Linked DNA regions of Homo sapiens: region 1 is linked to region 2. The links come from fine-mapping of genetic effects on gene expression. A gene starts in region 2. The other region holds a variant in brackets. All regions are shown on one strand. Distances are from middle to middle.

The links.
Region 1: its variant is fine-mapped to the expression of B4GALNT4 in whole blood (INTERVAL, PIP 0.97).

Annotation. Positions count from the first base shown.
Region 1 is chr11:399,195-407,472 of GRCh38, reverse strand. PKP3 (plakophilin 3) reads right to left here. Exons shown (of 13, transcript NM_007183.4): 5 at 8,277-8,278; 6 at 7,332-7,506; 7 at 7,022-7,139; 8 at 6,768-6,938; 9 at 4,210-4,395; 10 at 3,702-3,855; 11 at 3,338-3,530; 12 at 3,150-3,237; 13 at 2,565-2,939. The coding sequence ends at 2,904. SIGIRR (single Ig and TIR domain containing) reads left to right here. Exons shown (of 10, transcript NM_001135054.2): 6 at 1-48; 7 at 309-411; 8 at 480-630; 9 at 935-1,124; 10 at 1,414-1,757. The coding sequence ends at 1,577. Among named protein-coding and RNA genes, the nearest start is that of PKP3, 9.1 kb to the right of the region's middle. RefSeq lists silencers at 232-291, 362-621, 632-681 and an enhancer at 1,258-1,951. The variant G/A (reference allele first, on the strand shown) is at 3,928.
Region 2 is chr11:364,477-372,783 of GRCh38, reverse strand. It overlaps B4GALNT4 (beta-1,4-N-acetyl-galactosaminyltransferase 4), which reads right to left and starts at 3,285. Exons shown (of 20, transcript NM_178537.5): 1 at 2,830-3,285; 2 at 572-675; 3 at 30-122. The coding sequence starts at 2,980. RefSeq lists an enhancer at 4,214-4,752.

The DNA.
Region 1 (8,278 bases), 35 kb before region 2:
GGGGCTACAAGCTCTTCCTGGACGACCGCGACCTCCTGCCGCGCGCTGGTATCCCGGGCCCCACCCCGTGCCCCGCCCACCCGGAGGGCCCGCCCCGCCCCGCCCCATGCTCCGTCCCACCCGGGGCCCCACCCCCACCATCGAGCTCCGCCCCCATCCCCGCCCACCCGAGGCCCCGCCTCAAAAACCCGCCCACCCCGCAGGCCCCGCCCCTCCCTTAGAGCTCTGCGTCCGGCACCGCCCCTGAGCCTCCGGCCCCGCCCTCCCCCGCCCCCGCCCCTGCGCCGCCGACGCCCGCCCTCCCGCAGAGCCCTCCGCCGACCTCTTGGTGAACCTGAGCCGCTGCCGACGCCTCATCGTGGTGCTTTCGGACGCCTTCCTGAGCCGGGCCTGGTGCAGCCACAGCTTCCGGTGGGTCCCGCGCGGGGTTGGGTGGGCCCCAGCGTAGCACCCACCCCCCTGACGGTCCCGCCCCGCAGGGAGGGCCTGTGCCGGCTGCTGGAGCTCACCCGCAGACCCATCTTCATCACCTTCGAGGGCCAGAGGCGCGACCCCGCGCACCCGGCGCTCCGCCTGCTGCGCCAGCACCGCCACCTGGTGACCTTGCTGCTCTGGAGGCCCGGCTCCGTGGTGCGGAGCAGGCGCGGGAGGGTCCGGGGCTAGCGGCGGGTTAGAGATGGGCGGTGCCCGGGCTCCAGGCTGGGACCCCTCCGTGGGGAGCTCTGCGGCACCACGCTTTGTGAATGGGCCCTGGGGGGAGGTTCCGCTGCCTGGGGCCCCGATGCGGGGAGCCGCCCTTGAGGCCCCCGGAGCCACGGAATAGCTGTCGCAGGGCGTGGAACCCGTGGGCAGCCGCAGGTGTGCTCTTGGGGGCCAGGACGCCAGGGGCTTCCGAGGTGTTCACACCTGCAAACCGCCCCGACCTGGCCCCCAGACTCCTTCCTCCGATTTTTGGAAAGAAGTGCAGCTGGCGCTGCCGCGGAAGGTGCAGTACAGGCCTGTGGAAGGAGACCCCCAGACGCAGCTGCAGGACGACAAGGACCCCATGCTGATTCTTCGAGGCCGAGTCCCTGAGGGCCGGGCCCTGGACTCAGAGGTGGACCCGGACCCTGAGGGCGACCTGGGTATGCCCGCCCAGCCCCACTCCCCAACTGGAGAAGCTCAGCACAGGGCGGAGTGGGGGCAGGCACAGGGCACAGGGCCTGGAGGGGCTCCAGGTGTTGAGGACTCTTCCCGGCACCGGGAGCCCCTGCACGGCCTCTGCCCTGGAGGTGCTCGGCCCTCGGTCTGCCTGGGAACTTCCTGGGCCTCACAGGCCATCACAGCAGGGGGTGAGCAGGGGCAGCCCCTGGCAGTGGGTCTGGGCCAAGGCTGTGGGTGGCCACCTCAGGCGTCTCGGTCTCCCCACCCCAGGTGTCCGGGGGCCTGTCTTTGGAGAGCCATCAGCTCCACCGCACACCAGTGGGGTCTCGCTGGGAGAGAGCCGGAGCAGCGAAGTGGACGTCTCGGATCTCGGCTCGCGAAACTACAGTGCCCGCACAGACTTCTACTGCCTGGTGTCCAAGGATGATATGTAGCTCCCACCCCAGAGTGCAGGATCATAGGGACAGCGGGGGCCAGGGCAGCGGCGTCGCTCCTCTGCTCAACAGGACCACAACCCCTGCCAGCAGCCCTGGGACCCTGCCAGCAGCCCTGGGAAAAGGCTGTGGCCTCAGGGCGCCTCCCAGTGCCAGAAAATAAAGTCCTTTTGGATTCTGCTGGGGCCTCGGTCTCCTCCCTTGCGGCGGAAGGTTTCGGATTCGGCTTCCCTCTGCGGCTCTCTCAGCCTTCCACCCCTCCTCTCTCATCCCCACCCCTCCCTCTCTCATCCCCACCCGCCAAATCACCAAATCTGCCCTCTCTCCATCCCCCTTCCTAAGCCAGCTCAGGCGTGTCCCGTGCTTACAGTAGCCTCCTTGGGCCTCCTTGCCTGGTCCCTGGTTGGGGACGTGACTCTTCCTAGACCCTTCCCATGCAGGCAGATCCTGGATGGGGGCAGGCTCCTTAGAGACCTCAAGTTCTGAGCTTCACAGAAACTTTCTGTTTTAAGAATATCCACAGTAACTTCACAACTAAATGGCCTGGCTCTGGGTGAGATGGATGGGGGTGTCCGAGAGCCCACTGGACCCCAAACCTCAGGCAGCCAGTGTGAGAGCCCCTGGTCCAGGCAACTCCAGGCCCAGGGTGGGCGGCGGAGGAGTTGGGTTCATTTGCCGCATGAGTGTAGCCCACGAGGCAGCCACCCTGTTCCTACTCCAGTCACCCCTCTACTCTCGAGGCCCCCAGCTCTGCTCCGTCTGTGCCTGTGGTGCACCCGCTGTCCACCCTGTCCCCTCTCGGCCCTGAGGTGCCAGCTGTCCCTCTGCTGGGCTCTCCATGTCCTATGTCCTCTGATCTTGGGAGGCTTGTGTGTGAGCCCAGGGGGTGGGTGTCCTCAGGGGCAGGGGGTGCCTGGGGACACCTTGAGTCCCAGGATCATGCTGCCAGCCACAGGGTCGGGCCAGCCATGGAAGGACACAGGGCAGTGACTGTTCATGGCCATCTTTATTCCCAGTGCTGGCTATCCCAAGATACTGCCAGGCCACAGCCAACCCCCACCTCTGCCAATGTGACTGGGTCACCACCCCATACACCAGAGCAGCCTTGAGCCCTGCCCCACCCCCTGCCCTGCGGAAGCCAAGTCCCCAGCTATAAGACCCTGCCCCTCCTGGTGGCCCAGGACCCTCAAAGATGCACACAGGGGCCCCAGCGAGGGGCCCCTCCGTCATTAGCCTTCTCCTCCAGGCTGGGCTGCCAAGCAGCCTGGAGCTGAGTCTGTCCCTTGGACGCTGGGCCACGTCACCTTCTCCTCCAGAAGGCTTCACCTATGGGCCCAGGAAGTCCTCCTTCCGATAGCCCTTCTACAGTGGAGAGAGGCCCAAGGTCAGGGTGCATGTCTGCCCATGTGGCCCTCTGCCCGCTGTCCCTCCTGCAGTGTGCTGGGTGTGGCCCGGACCCTTCCTCTCTGGGTCCCTGGTCTCCATCCTCCCATGGGCCTCTTCACTGACCCTCCCCCGGCGTCCCATGCCCTGCACCCGGGTCCCTGCTTGCCCTGGGCTCGGGAAACGTACCGCCCGGAAGTCACGGTGGAGCTTGTTGTACTGCCACAGGTTGGCCAGGAGGCTGGATGCTGCCCGGGAGGACTTCTCACTGTCGGGGCTGAGGGTGGAGGGCAGTCAGGAGGGGACACACAGCCAGAAAGCAGGGTGGACTGGGAGGACCCCTGACCAGGCTGCTGCACGGCTGGGTCGGCCCCTACCTGTCCCGCTTCTTCTTGATGAAGATGAGCTTTCGGAGTCCGTCAAAATACAGCAGGTCTCGGGCAGCGATGGGGCTGGCCACCACCAGGTTGTTGAGCACAGCTATGATGTTGACCAGCACCTCGGCTGGGGGCGACTTCTCACCCACGCTGCCCGGCAGCTTCTCGATCAGGTGGCTCACCACCTTCGTGGCTGTGGGAGGCCGGGGGTCAGTCTGCACCCCTACTCCTGGCCACCTGGGCACCTGGGGTCCCCTGCCTCCCCCAGGGAGCTGGACTGGCCCCAGTGGTCTGAAGCCCACACTTAAAGACAAAATTGACATGTGGGTCCAGCAGGGCAGGGACGAGGGGCTGCCCGACTCACACATCTCGTCCTTGTTCCTAGCGTTCCGAGACAGGTTTCGGATGAGGCCAGTCAGTGAGCGCAGCTGGTGGTGGTCGGCGGTCCTGACACGGTCTAGCAGGGGGTTCAGAATACGCTCCTGCTCCAGGGCCAGGCGGCTCAGCACCCCCGCCCACTGTGGGGAGGGAGGGTGTGAGCCGTGACCCGGAGGCCTCAGACCCTCACCTGAGGGGGTCCTGCCACAATG[G/A]GGTCGCTGCATCCTCTCGCCACCCTCAGGGGGGCCTCTGCTTCTGCCTTTGCCCCCCAGCCGGGGGGAATCAGCCGCAGCCCGGATCAGGTGCCTCCCTTCAAACCCAGGGCAGGACTTCCATCCTCCCAAGGCCCAAGGCCTGCGCCACCGGGACGCTGACCTCCGAGGCTCCGCGGACCCTGGGCGTCCCCTTCCTCCTCCCCTCCCTCTCCCTCCTCTGTCCCCCCCTCAACCGCATGAACCCCTGGGACCCCCTCGGGTCTGGGTTGGGTGCCCCACCCTGCGGTCGCCTGCCGTGATGTTCTGCAGCGCCCCGGCGGCCGCCTCCGTCGTGTGCCGGTTGAGCTCGCAGCGCTGCAGCAGCCGGTTGTACAGCCCCACGATCTGGGGGCTCCACAGCCACTCGAGGCCCTTGGGGTCCTTGGACACCTCCGCGAAGGTGAGCGCATCGGCGGCGAGGGGCAGCTGCGCAGGGCGGGGAGGAGTCGGCGGGGTCGGGGTGAGCGGGTCGGGGTGAGCGGGTCGGGGTGAGCGGGTCGGGTGTGAGTGGGGCGGGGGTGAGCGGGGTCCGGGGTGAGCGGGGCGGGGGTGAGCGGGGCCGGGGGTCGGGGGTGAGCGGGGTCCGGGGTGAGCGGGGCGGGGGTGAGCGGGGTCCGGGGTGAGCGGGGTCGGGGTGAGCGGGTCCCGGGGTGAGCGGGGCGGGGGTGAGCGGGGCGGGGGTGAGCGGGGCCGGGGGTGAGCGGGGCCGGGGGTCGGGGGTGAGCGGGGTCGGGGTGAGCGGGGCCGGGGGTGAGCGGGGCCCGGGGTGAGCGGGGCAGGGGTGAGCGGGGCGGGGGTGAGCGGGGTCGGGGTGAGCGGGTCGGGGGTGAGCGGGGCCGGGGGTCGGGGGTGAGCGGGGTCGGGGTGAGCGGGTCGGGGGTGAGCGGGGCCGGGGGTCGGGGGTGAGCGGGGTCGGGGTGAGCGGGGCCGGGGGTGAGCGGGGCCGGGGGTCGGGGGTGAGCGGGGTCGGGGTGAGCGGGGCCGGGGTCAGTGGAGCCGGGGGTGAGCGGGGCCGGGGGTCGGGGGTGAGCGGGGTCCGGGGTGAGCGGGGCCGGGGTCAGTGGAGCCGGGGGTGAGCGGGGCCGGGGGTCGGGGGTGAGCGGGGTCCGGGGTGAGCGGGGCCGGGGTCAGTGGAGCCGGGGGTGAGCGGGGCCGGGGGTCGGGGGTGAGCGGGGCCGGGGGTCGGGGGTGAGCGGGGTCCGGGGTGAGCGGGGCCGGGGTCAGTGGAGCCGGGGGTGAGCGGGGCCGGGGGTCGGGGGTGAGCGGGGTCCGGGGTGAGCGGGGCCGGGGTCAGTGGAGCCGGGGGTGAGCGGGGCCGGGGGTCTGGGGTGAGCGGGGTCGGGGTGAGCGGGGCCGGGGTCAGTGGAGCCGGGGGTGAGCGGGGCCGGGGGTCGGGGGTGAGCGGGGTCCGGGGTGAGCGGGGCCGGGGTCAGTGGAGCCGGGGGTGAGCGGGGCCGGGGGTCGGGGGTGAGCGGGGTCCGGGGTGAGCGGGGCCGGGGTCAGTGGAGCCGGGGGTGAGCGGGGCCGGGGGTCGGGGGTGAGCGGGGCCGGGGGTCGGGGGTGAGCGGGGTCCGGGGTGAGCGGGGCCGGGGTCAGTGGAGCCGGGGGTGAGCGGGGCCGGGGGTCGGGGGTGAGCGGGGTCCGGGGTGAGCGGGGCCGGGGTCAGTGGAGCCGGGGGTGAGCGGGGCCGGGGGTCGGGGGTGAGCGGGGCCGGGGGTCGGGGGTGAGCGGGGCGGGGGTGAGCGGGGCGGGGGTGAGCGGGGTCGGGGGTGAGCGGGGTCGGGGGTGAGCGGGGCCGGGGGTGAGCGGGGCCGGGGGTGAGCGGGGCGGGGGTGAGCGGGGCGGGTGTGAGCGGGGCCGGGTGTGAGCGGGGCCGGGTGTGAGCGGGGCCGGGTGTGAGCGGGGCGGGTGTGAGCGGGGCCGGGTGTGAGCGGGGCCGGGGGTGAGCGGGCCGGGGGTGAGCGGGGCGGGTGTGAGCGGGGCGGGTGTGAACGGGGCCGGGGGTGAGCGGGGCCGGGGGTGAGCGGGGCGGGTGTGAGCGGGGCGGGTGTGAGCGGGGCGGGTGTGAGCGGGCCGGGTGTGAGCGGGGCCGGGTGTGAGCGGGGCGGGTGTGAGCGGGGCCGGGGGTGAGCGGGGCGGGTGTGAGCGGGGCCGGGTGTGAGCGGGGCCGGGTGTGAGCGGGCCGGGGGTGAGCGGGGCGGGTGTGAGCGGGCCGGGGGTGAGCGGGGCGGGTGTGAGCGGGGCGGGTGTGAACGGGGCCGGGTGTGAGCGGGGCCGGGGGTGAGCGGGGCGGGTGTGAGCGGGCCGGGTGTGAGCGGGGCCGGGTGTGAGCGGGGCCGGGTGTGAGCGGGGCAGGTGTGAGCGGGGCCGGGGGTGAGCGGGGCGGGTGTGAGCGGGGCCGGGTGTGAGCGGGGCCGGGTGTGAGCGGGCCGGGGGTGAGCGGGGCGGGGGTGAGCGGGGCCGGGTGTGAGCGGGGCGGGTGTGAGCGGGGTCCGGGGTGAGCGGGGTCCGGGGTGAGCGGGGCGGGGGTGAGCGGGGCGGGTGTGAGCGGGGCCGGGGGTGAGCGGGGCGGGGGTGAGCGGGGTCCGGGGTGAGCGGGGCGGGGGTGAGCGGGGCGGGGGTGAGCGGGGCGGGTGTGAGCGGGGTCGGGGGTGAGCGGGGCGGGGGTGAGCGGGGTCCGGGGTGAGCGGGGCGGGGTGAGCGGGGCGGGGGTGAGCGGGGCGGGGGTGAGCGGGGCCGGGGTCAGCGGGGCCGGGGTCGCAGCACCCACCCCACGCCCCGCTCAGGCTGGTGCCCACCTCGCGCAGCCGCCGGCTCTGCGGCGTGAAGCAGCCCACGACCTCTCCCGGCGGCGCCCCCGCCAGGTCCCTGCGGCCGCGACCCTCCAGCCGCTGCAGCGCGGACGGCGGCATCTCGTCGTAGAGGCGGTAGGACAGGTTCCGCAGGACGCACACCGCGTTCTCCACGCTCTGCGGGCGGGGGCGCGGGGCAGGGGCGCGGGTCAGAGCGGCGGCCCGGGGGCACGGCCCCTCCTCCACACCGCGCCCCTCACCTTGTCCTCGCATTTGCCCGCGTCCAGGGCGTGGTTGATAGAGGTGACCAGGGCGTCCACCAGCCCGTGGCACTCCCGCATCTTCTGGCGAGTGGCCTGAGAGGCTGAGCTGAGGTTCCTGGGGACCGAGGTGGATCAGAGCCCCCCAGGGACCCCGCATCCCGGGCCTTGCCCCAACCCATCGTGGGCCCTCGCACGCCCATCCCCAGCGCGAGGCGTGCGGTGTGTGGGCTGCGAACGCCAGGCCAGGCGGAGTCCCCACAGTGACCCGCGCCTGCAATCCCCACCCCGCTGCCCGAGGCTGGCGCACCTGAGGAAGCCGGTGGCGTTGTAGAAGATCTCTGCCTCCGAGGCGTTCTGCTGGATGAGGGGGGGACCCCCAGCCCCCGACAGGGGGCTCAACACCAGGTCTGTGAGCTGCTCCAGCGTGTCTCTGGCCAGGCGGTCCTTCAGGTGGTCGCTGGATGAAAGGTTCCACAGGATCCCTGGAGGACGGGGGAGGCTGCTATCAGCGTCTGCCCTCCAACCCCCTCCGCGTTTCTGGGGATGGTGTGAAGAGGTCCCGCCTCTCCCCAGGGGCTGGCCTGGTGTTCTGTGCCTCACCCACGAGCCCCACTGGGGAGACCCTGGGGTGGCATTTGAGGTGATAGAGCTGGGACCAAGCAAGAGGGGACAAGATGTGGGGGTGGGGTGGTGAGCAGGCCTGGCAGTGCAGGCGGCTCCAAGGAGACAAAACCACAGGACAGGGTGGCCGGGGGTCCAGGAAAGAGGCGGGCAGTGGAGGCCCAAGTAGAAACACGGCCGGCAAAAGGTACAAAGGGACGGAGGGGAACCGAATGAGGTGGAGGGGTCAGAACGGAGGAGAGAGGACAGGCAGAGGAGGGACAGGAGGAGGGGGACAGGCAGAAAAGGGGGACAGGTGGAGGGGGGGACAGGTGGGGGATAGGCAGAGGGGGCAGGTGGAGGAGGGGGGCCAGGTGGGGGGGACACAGAGGGAGGACAGGAGGAGTAGGGGACAGGCAGAGGGGGCAGGTGGAGGAGGGGGCAGGTGGAGGAGTGGGGCAGATGGCGGGCAGGTGGGGGGGTAAGGCAGAGGGGGGGAGGAGGAGTAGGGGGGCAGGTGGCAGAGGGGGCAGGTGGAGAAGGGGGGCAGATGGTGGGCAGGTGGAGGGGGGCAGGTGGGGAGGAAGGCAGGGGGGATAGGCAGAGGGGCGCAGGTGGAGGAAGGACAGGTGGAGGAGGGGACAGGCAGCACCT
Region 2 (8,307 bases):
CCAGCCCATTACAGGCCGAGCCAGCTCACCTCCTCCCGCCATGGGGGTGTCTGATGGGTGAAGTTCAGTGGCAGCCTCCCAGCCCCCCCAGGAAACAGCATGTCTAGGTCCCGACCTTCGGGCTGCAGGAGAGAAAAGGCAACAGGGTCAGGGTTGGAAGGGCAGGGAGGAGGTCACACACACCAAGACAAACCTTCACAAAGACCCCTTCCAACATGTATCCACACAGCCCTAAATGCCCGTGAGCCCCAGCCATGCAAACCCTGACCTGTGGCACCTGGCACATACACTCAGACACCCTGGTCACTCTAGCCCAAGCAGATGCTTGGCCACCCCACACACTGACCGGCCGGCACATTCATGCACCTGCTGCAGCCCCCAGACACAGAGCTCCAGACAGGATGGCTGGTGCTGGAGCTCACACAGACAAGCTGTGCCGTGCCCCACATGTCCTGTGTCTCATGCCCCCTGCTGCGTCCTCCAGAATGGACAGGTTCTCAAGACACCAACACACAAGTGGCTTCGGGGTCTCGTCTCCGTGCACACGTGTTCTCCCCAGGGCTCTGCTCACCGCTTGCTCCTCTTCACGGCTCTCACTGGAGTCCTCAGCCCTCTGTGTGGATGGCGCAGCGTGGACCCCCCGGCCGTCGGTCTCACTGGTCAGCTTCTCACCATCTGCAGGTGGCACATGAGGCCTGTCTCGGGCCCAGGCTCTCTCCAAGGCCATTCTGCCTGCTGCTGGGTTCAGCTGGGCCAGGGACCCACATGGCCAGAGCAGGGCAGGCAGGCTGTGGTGTCTCTCACTAAAGCCTCTCCTTCTCATCTGCTTCCTCTGCCACCAGATGCCCCTCCCCCCAGCAAGGCAACTTCTTCTACACCCCACCTCTGGTGGGGCAGCCCAGGCTGAGCCTTCCAGCAGGCTCTTCCCAACCTCCAGCAGGTGTGAGGGAGGAAAGCCGGGTGGGCCAGCTGGCGTGTGTAGGCACCCACATGCACCTCCATCTGGCCATTCTTGTTGAGTGGCTCTGCCTCCAGGAAGACCCCAGGACTGCCCTGTGCCCTCAGCACTTTCTCTGTGTGCTGGAGTGTTCCACGTCTGCCTCCCTTACCAGAACTGAGAACTCAGGGTTAGTGCCAGGGACTGTAGTCTCTCCTGAAGGATTTGAGCTCTCAAAGTCTGGACTGAGGAACAGGCATGGATGCTGACGCCCAGGCATGGCCCTGGAGCAGAGGGTGGCCCTGGATTGAGTGTCCTTGGGTAGGAGGACCAGGAGGGGCAGAATTGGGGTGAAGAGAAGCATCCCTACAGATGCTCAGATCCCAGGGCGTGGAACCCCCTGGGGCTGCAGTGGGGATGTCTAGGTCCTCAGCTTAGGGAGGTCCAGGAAGTGGAGAGGGCTGGGGTGCAGAGCTGGCCTGCCCAGGCTTGTGGGGAGGCAGTAGAGATGTCCACAGGCAGATCTGGGAAGGGTCCCCCAGGGCTCCCCTGACTTGGGCCCCAGGTCCCCCGACAGAACAGTCTGCTCACTCGCCCTCTCCCTGGGCAGCTGTTGGGCTCCTCTGGTCCTGGCCCTAGCCTCAGAGGTAGCAAGTGTACAGGTGCCCTGGGGCGGAGCTGGCTTAGCCTCAAGGGGTCCTTGGAAGAGGGGTCCCTATGCCTCCGCCCCCTCCTGGTTGGGCTTAGACCCCTGCGCTGCTCAGAAAACCACAGAGGAGCCTGCAGAGGGGGCTGGTTTTGTTCTGTGTCACTGGGCCAGCTGTGGATCCTGCCCTGTCTGCTGATAGCTGGGGTGGGGCTTTTTAGGGATTCAGCAGTATCGGGGGTCTCTTGAGGGTGTGGAAGCTGTGAGGTATGTGGGTTGGGACAAGCCCCAGACCCTTGGCCTGTGTGGGTCCAGGCGTCCCGGTACAGGAAGAGAACACAGGGGCTTTGGCAGGTGGAGTGGCCCAGGAGTCCCCAGCCAGTATCATTGTTCTGCCCCCTCAGGACACCTGGCTCCCTGGAAAAGGCTCAGAGGCAGCCAGCTGGGGTCTCTCCTGGTCTGGGCATGGCACTAACCTCCCTCCTCCAGAGGGGGCATTCTGCCCCACCTTCTCCCCCAACCCCACCGCCAGGCTTTCATCTGCGCCTTCCTGTCTGGAATGCTCTTTCCCCCAAAGGTGTATGTCAAAGATCACCATCTCCAGGAGGCCCTACCCCGGCTGGCTCACCGTGACCCCATCTGCTTTGTTTGTGGGTTGGGGTTGGGAGAGTTTACGCCAGGCTCCCCAAGCTGGGCCCCATCCCTACGCATGGACCCCCACAACACTGGCACAGTTCACCGAAGGCGCCCCCGCCGGGAAGCGTCCCAGCTGCACCGGCCACTTCAGCAAGCCCCGGCCCGGGTCCCCAGCACACAGGGAAACTGAGGCCCTGCTAAGCGGGCAGGGGGTGGAGGCGAGGCCTGAGAAGGCCTCTTGGAAGCCTCAGCAGGGTCTAGGGGCAGAGACTTCCCCAGGAGCCCACCGTCAGCCCCTCACTACCGGATCCAAGCCAGATCCCAGAGTCAGGGACCCTCTCTGGGAGGGTCGCGCGCGTCACTGCCGACGTCATCGAGCGTCCGGGCCGAGCCGAACCGCGCCCCCTCCCCCCAAATCGCAGAGCGGAGAACAGCGGGCGGGGTCTCCGGGAGGGTCGGGCCCAGCCGAGACCTCTGTGCGGTGGGAGGCCCGGCCCGCGCCCCGGGGCCCCCGCCGCCCGCGCCGCCCGCGCCCCCCGCGCCGCCCGCGCCCCCCGCGCCCCCCGCGCCGCCCCCGCCCCCCGCGCCCCCCGCGCCCCCCGCGCCGTACCTCGCCCGTAGCCCAGGCGCTGGCGCAGCGCGCGTCCCTGGCGCACCAGGCCCAGGTGCACGTAGGTGAGCCACGCGGCGCAGCTCAGCAGCAGCAGCAGCAGCAGCAGCTTCATCTGCTTACGGATCTTCTTCACCGGGAGCCGCGGCATCGCGGCCGCCGCGCCCGCCCCAGGCCGCGCTCAGCGGCGCCGCTGCAGCCCCCGGCCCCCGCCCGCCCCGCGCCGCATCCCCGGCCCGCCCCGCCGCGCTCAGCGCCCGCGGCCCCGCATGGTCCTTTGTCCGCCGTGCGCGGCCACCGGGTGCGGCCGCGACCCCCCCAGGCCGCCCTCGGCCGCGGGCCCGGGGTGGGCGGCGGGGGCGGCTCCTCGCGGTGCCCCCCGCCCGGCCGCTCCCGGCTCCGCGCTCCTGGGGCGGCGGCGGGACCGAACAGCATCCACGGCTGCCACCGCGGATCGGGCCCCGGCCGCGCGCGCGGAACCAATCGGACCGAGCCAGGCCGCGGGGAGCCAATGGCGGCGCGCGGGGAGGGGTGCGGGGCGCGGGAAGGCGGGGCGGGGCGCGGGGTGCGGGGCGGAGGAGGCGGGGCGAGGGGAGGCGGGGCGGGGCGGGGGGTGCGGAGGGTGCGGGGCGGGGGGTGAGGGGTGCGGGACGGACAGGGATGCGGGGCGCGGGGCGCGCGTCCACCTGGGCCACGGAGCGCGGGGGCGCGGCACACAGACGCGGGGCTGGGAAGCGCTGGGGCTCGGGGACCGTGGGGGGCGGCGGGGGATGGGCACAGCCTGACTGTGGGGCGGGGCGGCCTCCCGAGAACAGTGACCCGAAGGACTGCAGGCGGACAACACGGAGGAGGGAGGGGAGGGACCCGGGGTCCTGGGGGGCGGGGAATGGGGGCGGGCGAGAGAGGCCGGGGGGCGGGGGGGCCCAAGCACCGGCTTCAGCCCAGGGGTGGGAGTCGTTGCGGGATCTCAGCCTGCAGGGCTGGGGCCGCAGGGGGCCGAGCTGTCTGGGCGGCAGGAGGGGCCTCAGCTGGTGGCCCCCGCCCCACCGAGCGCGGCCTGAGGCAGGTGACAGTGTCGTGCCTCTCACCGGGACCTTGTCCCACTTCGTGCCCTTTCTCACCTGGTCTGCACCAACCCCTGCCAGTCCCTCTGTCCCCCCAGTACTTCCCTTGTCCAGCTGCCAGCGTGACCCTACTCTTCTCCCTCTGTCTGCTCAGCTGTCTCTGGGTGTGTAGCAAACCGCCCAGCTTCAGTGCTGTCCAACAGCAGCGTTCCTGTGTTCCTGTGTCCTGTGGGTCAGGAACTCAGGGCACTCGGGGACAGCTCCTCTCTGCTCCTCGAGGTGCTGGCCTCCGGTGGGAAGACGTGAGTGGTGGGGCCGGCTCCGCGGGACAGGCTGGAGCCATCCAGAGACTTCTGCCCCAAGCCAGTGCACCCTCGGCAGGAATGGCTGGGCTCACCCCGGGTGGTTGGCCAGAGCGCCTGCAGGCTCAGCTGCCAGGGGCAGCCTCCCGGTCCAGCACACAGAGTGAAGCATCTTGGAGTCACCCCTCAGGTTTGCCACATGCCGCACGGCCACCCAAGTTCGTGGGTTGTGGGGACGTGGACCCCACCTCACAATGGAAGATTGCCCAGAAGTTGCCTTCTTAAGACCTCAACTCCTTCCCTCCTTCCCCTCCATCCTCCTCCCCTAACTTCTGAGCACAGAAGCAAGCTGGTTACATCCTGCTGTTCATACCGGCCCTTAAACAACACCCGGTCTCTCAAACCTTCCCCCACCCCATCAGCTCCTCATCTCCTGCCTCCTGCAGTCCACTTTTCATATTTCTGTTATCTGCATATTCATTAAAATATAGTGCCCCACCCCTTTTTGAGACAGGGTCTCACTGTGTCTCTGAGGCTAGAGTGCAGTGGTGCAATCTCAGCTCACAGCAGCCTTGACCTCCTGGGCTCAAGCGATCCTCCCACTTCAGGTTCTTGAGGAGCTGGGACTACAGGCATGCATCACCATGCCGGACTAATTTTTTGTATTTTTTTTTTTAACAGATTCAGGGTCTCACCATGTGTCCCGGGCTGGCGTTGAACTCCTGGGCTCAAGTGATCCTCCCGCCTTGGCCTCCCAAAGTGCTGGGATTCCAGGCGTGAGCCACTGTGCCCGGCCAGTGGTGCTCTTTTATGTGTCTCATTCTGTTTCTCCAAGTCCCATATTTTCTATGTGCATCTGTCTGGCTGTGCGTCTAATGCTTTCCCTCTTTCCACTGCATGGCACCCCATCCTAGGCACATTCATCCAGCCAGTGGACGCTACCTAGTATTCTAGTGTCCTGACGAGCCAGGGACTTAGGGGACACAGCAGTGAGCAAGACAGAAAAGGGCCCTCCTTTCATGGAGTTTACATGTTACTAGGCAGGGACAGACCAGTGAACGCATAGTCGCTTTGCTGGTGGTGAGTGACGTGAAGGAGATGAGCTGGGTGATGGAGGGAGGCCGGCTCCCGCTCCAGGGTCGCTCTCTGGGGAGGCAACGGCTGGCCTGACCCGTAAACAGGTTCTTAGAAGGCAAGTGTTGGCAATGTCGGGAGAGACGTGTTTGGGACACTTCATGGGTCCACAGTCAGAGGGTGTCCCCTGTGGATCCAAAGCATAGTAGGTACAATTGAGGGGCGAGCTGGGATCTGCCGGACGCAGATGCTCCATATGCTACCACATCCGTCTCGGCCCCTTCTGGAGAAGAACGGCCACCGCCTCACTTCGGTGTGACCCAGCCACAGAGGAGAAGGTTCTGGGAAATGGGTCTCCAGCTTAGAATAAGAGAACAACCTGGCCGGGCGCGGTGGCTCACGCCTGTAATCCCAGCACTTTGGGAGGCCGAGGCGGGCGGATCACGAGGTCAGGAGATCGAGACCATCCTGGCTAACACGGTGAAACCCTGTCTGTACTGAAAATACAAAAAATTAGCCGGGCGTGGCGGCGGGCGCCTGTAGTCCCAGCTACTCGGAGGCTGAGGCAGGAGAATGGCGTGAACCCGGGAGGCGGAGCTTGCAGTGAGCCGAGATCGCGCCACTGCACTCCAGCCTGGGTGACAGAGCGAGACTCGGTCTCAAAAAAAAAAAAGAGAGAACAACCTGGCAGGTTCCTCCTCTTGACAACTCAGCACAGACGCACACTTCTTTTAAAAAACACATTTAACTTCCAAATAAAGCAAAAAACAAAGTCATGCTTCTACGTAACATGATGCAAATATTCCAACCAGAAGGGACTGAACAAAAGGTTCGTGTCATGTTATCCACATTTGAGAAGACGATCCTCGTTCTTCTAGTTTCTCTAAGAGCGTTTAACACTTGACACTGCAAAGTGCATGTTGGGGGTTGGATGACACAAATACTGAGATGAAATGTAAAGTTAACTGTTGTTAACGCATTTTATGCAGCTAGGAGGGCAATGGAAGAGGAAAAAAGCAGGAAGAACGGATAATGTCAGTACAAGTGTGACTTGTGTGAGGATAAGAAGTACTCACTTCTACGGTCACCAGGTCGTGGCTGGTACAGTCTTTATGGCCACGCTCTTCCGTCACTCCTGCGTGGTCCCTTTGCCCTCTGCAAGCACCTCTGCTGGTCGTGGTTCACTGTCTGGTGGGGTGACCCAAACGTTCCTTCCCAAAAGGCCTATGCTGTTAGCAGTTTTGCCTTATGGGGTGGTTCTGGTTTTCCAGTGGTGTTTTCTGCAAGGCTTAGAGGAGCTACGTGATATTACAGACGATCTCCTGCCTCCCAAATTTCTCCCCCTTAGCCCCATTCTGTGATCAGGTTCCAAGTTCCCCTTGTTGGGCTCAGTCAGCCGGACCAGCACAGGGACCCTCTTCTTTGTCGACCCCCTGGTGTGAGGAACCGGCGTCCAGGTGGGCAGTCTCAGCTTCCTGCGTAACGTGTCCCCTGGTGGAAACACTCCAGGGCTTTCCCAGGACCGAGGGGATTCCTAGGACATGGAACTTTCCGTTTTAAACCTGGGAAAGTCGGCTGGGCGCGGTGGCTCACGCCTGTAATCTCAGCACTTTGGGACGCTGAGGCAGGTGGATTACCTGAGGTTGGAAGTTCGAGACCAGCCTAACCAACATGGAGAAACCCCGTCTCTACTAAAAATAAAAAATTAGCTGGGCATGGTGGTGCATGCCTGCAATCCCAGCTACTAGGAAGGCTGAGGCAGGAGAATTGCTTGAACCCAGGAGGCGGAGGTTGTGGTGAGCCGAGATCGTGCCATTGCACTCCAGCCTGGGCAACAAGAGCAAAACTGAGCCTCAAAAAAATAAAAAATAAAAAAATGAAAATAAGACCGGCAAAGTCTTAAGCAAACTGGGATGAGTTGGTCCCTGGGAATCTGAGGCCTCTAGACCAACAGCGTGCAACACTGCAGGGGGCAAAACTTTCACTTGTGGCTCACTGGGGATTAACGACAATGGGAAGAAGTTGGGGTTTCCACTCCTCCACGCCTGGACCAGTGAGCCCCGGCTTTGGGAAAAGCCAGAGATTAAGTGCTGATTCAGTGGATCCGCTGCATCCAGAGGACCCCAGATCCACAGCATTGTCACTCAGCTGGTGCCAAAACTGAGCCTCCCAAAGGCCATTCCATCAGGAACACGGCGAGATCTGTGGGTTCCAGGAGCACCGGCCGGTTGCTGTCCCCAGGACAATGGCGATGCCGCCATGAGGAGCACCCCGTGGGTGGACGAGGAGCTCTGAATGTGTGGGGTGGTGGTTTGGGCAGAGGCATTGAGGGCACTGACCATCCACAGCTGGGGTGGGAGCCCATCCTGCTGGGACAAGCATCCTCCATGGTGGAGGAAGGGGCCAGTGTTGGTCTCCGCTGTTGGCTGCGCGGTGCCCAGGGTAATCCGCTTCCCACTGCTACAGCCACTTGGCCCGACTCAGGACAAGGGGAGCTGGGGAAAGAGGCTGCCTGATGCGCACAAATGGGTCATTTTGTCCGTCTGACTATTAGGGTCCCTCCTCTGCTGAGACAGGTCTTTGCACACAAATTCTTTATGCTCTGCCCACCCCAAGAGGTCTGTCTACATACCTTCACCCCGACCGTTTCATCTCTAACTTTGTAATCGTGCCCCTCCAAGTGCCTGGCCATCAGCTAGACGGTCGGCCGTGGCCGGGGCGTCCACGGAACTCTGCCTCCTCCTCCATCCTGCTTGCTGCTCGGCCCTGCGAGGACCTGCCTTTGCACCTGTCGTGCAGGCCTGGCCTCCCACACCCAGGTGAGGACCTGCCTTTGCACCTGTCGTGCAGGCCTGGCCTCCCACACCCAGGTGGCGCTGCCGTGCTGGGGCGCCCACTTCGGGGTGGTGCCAGCTTATTAGGCAGAGCCATCTGTGACCAGGGCTGCATTGTGCTTTCTGAGTCATCTGGTCCGAGGGAACGCCTCACGACCCAGTGGTGTATTTCAGAGAGATGAGGCAGAGTGAGGGGAGCTGCCT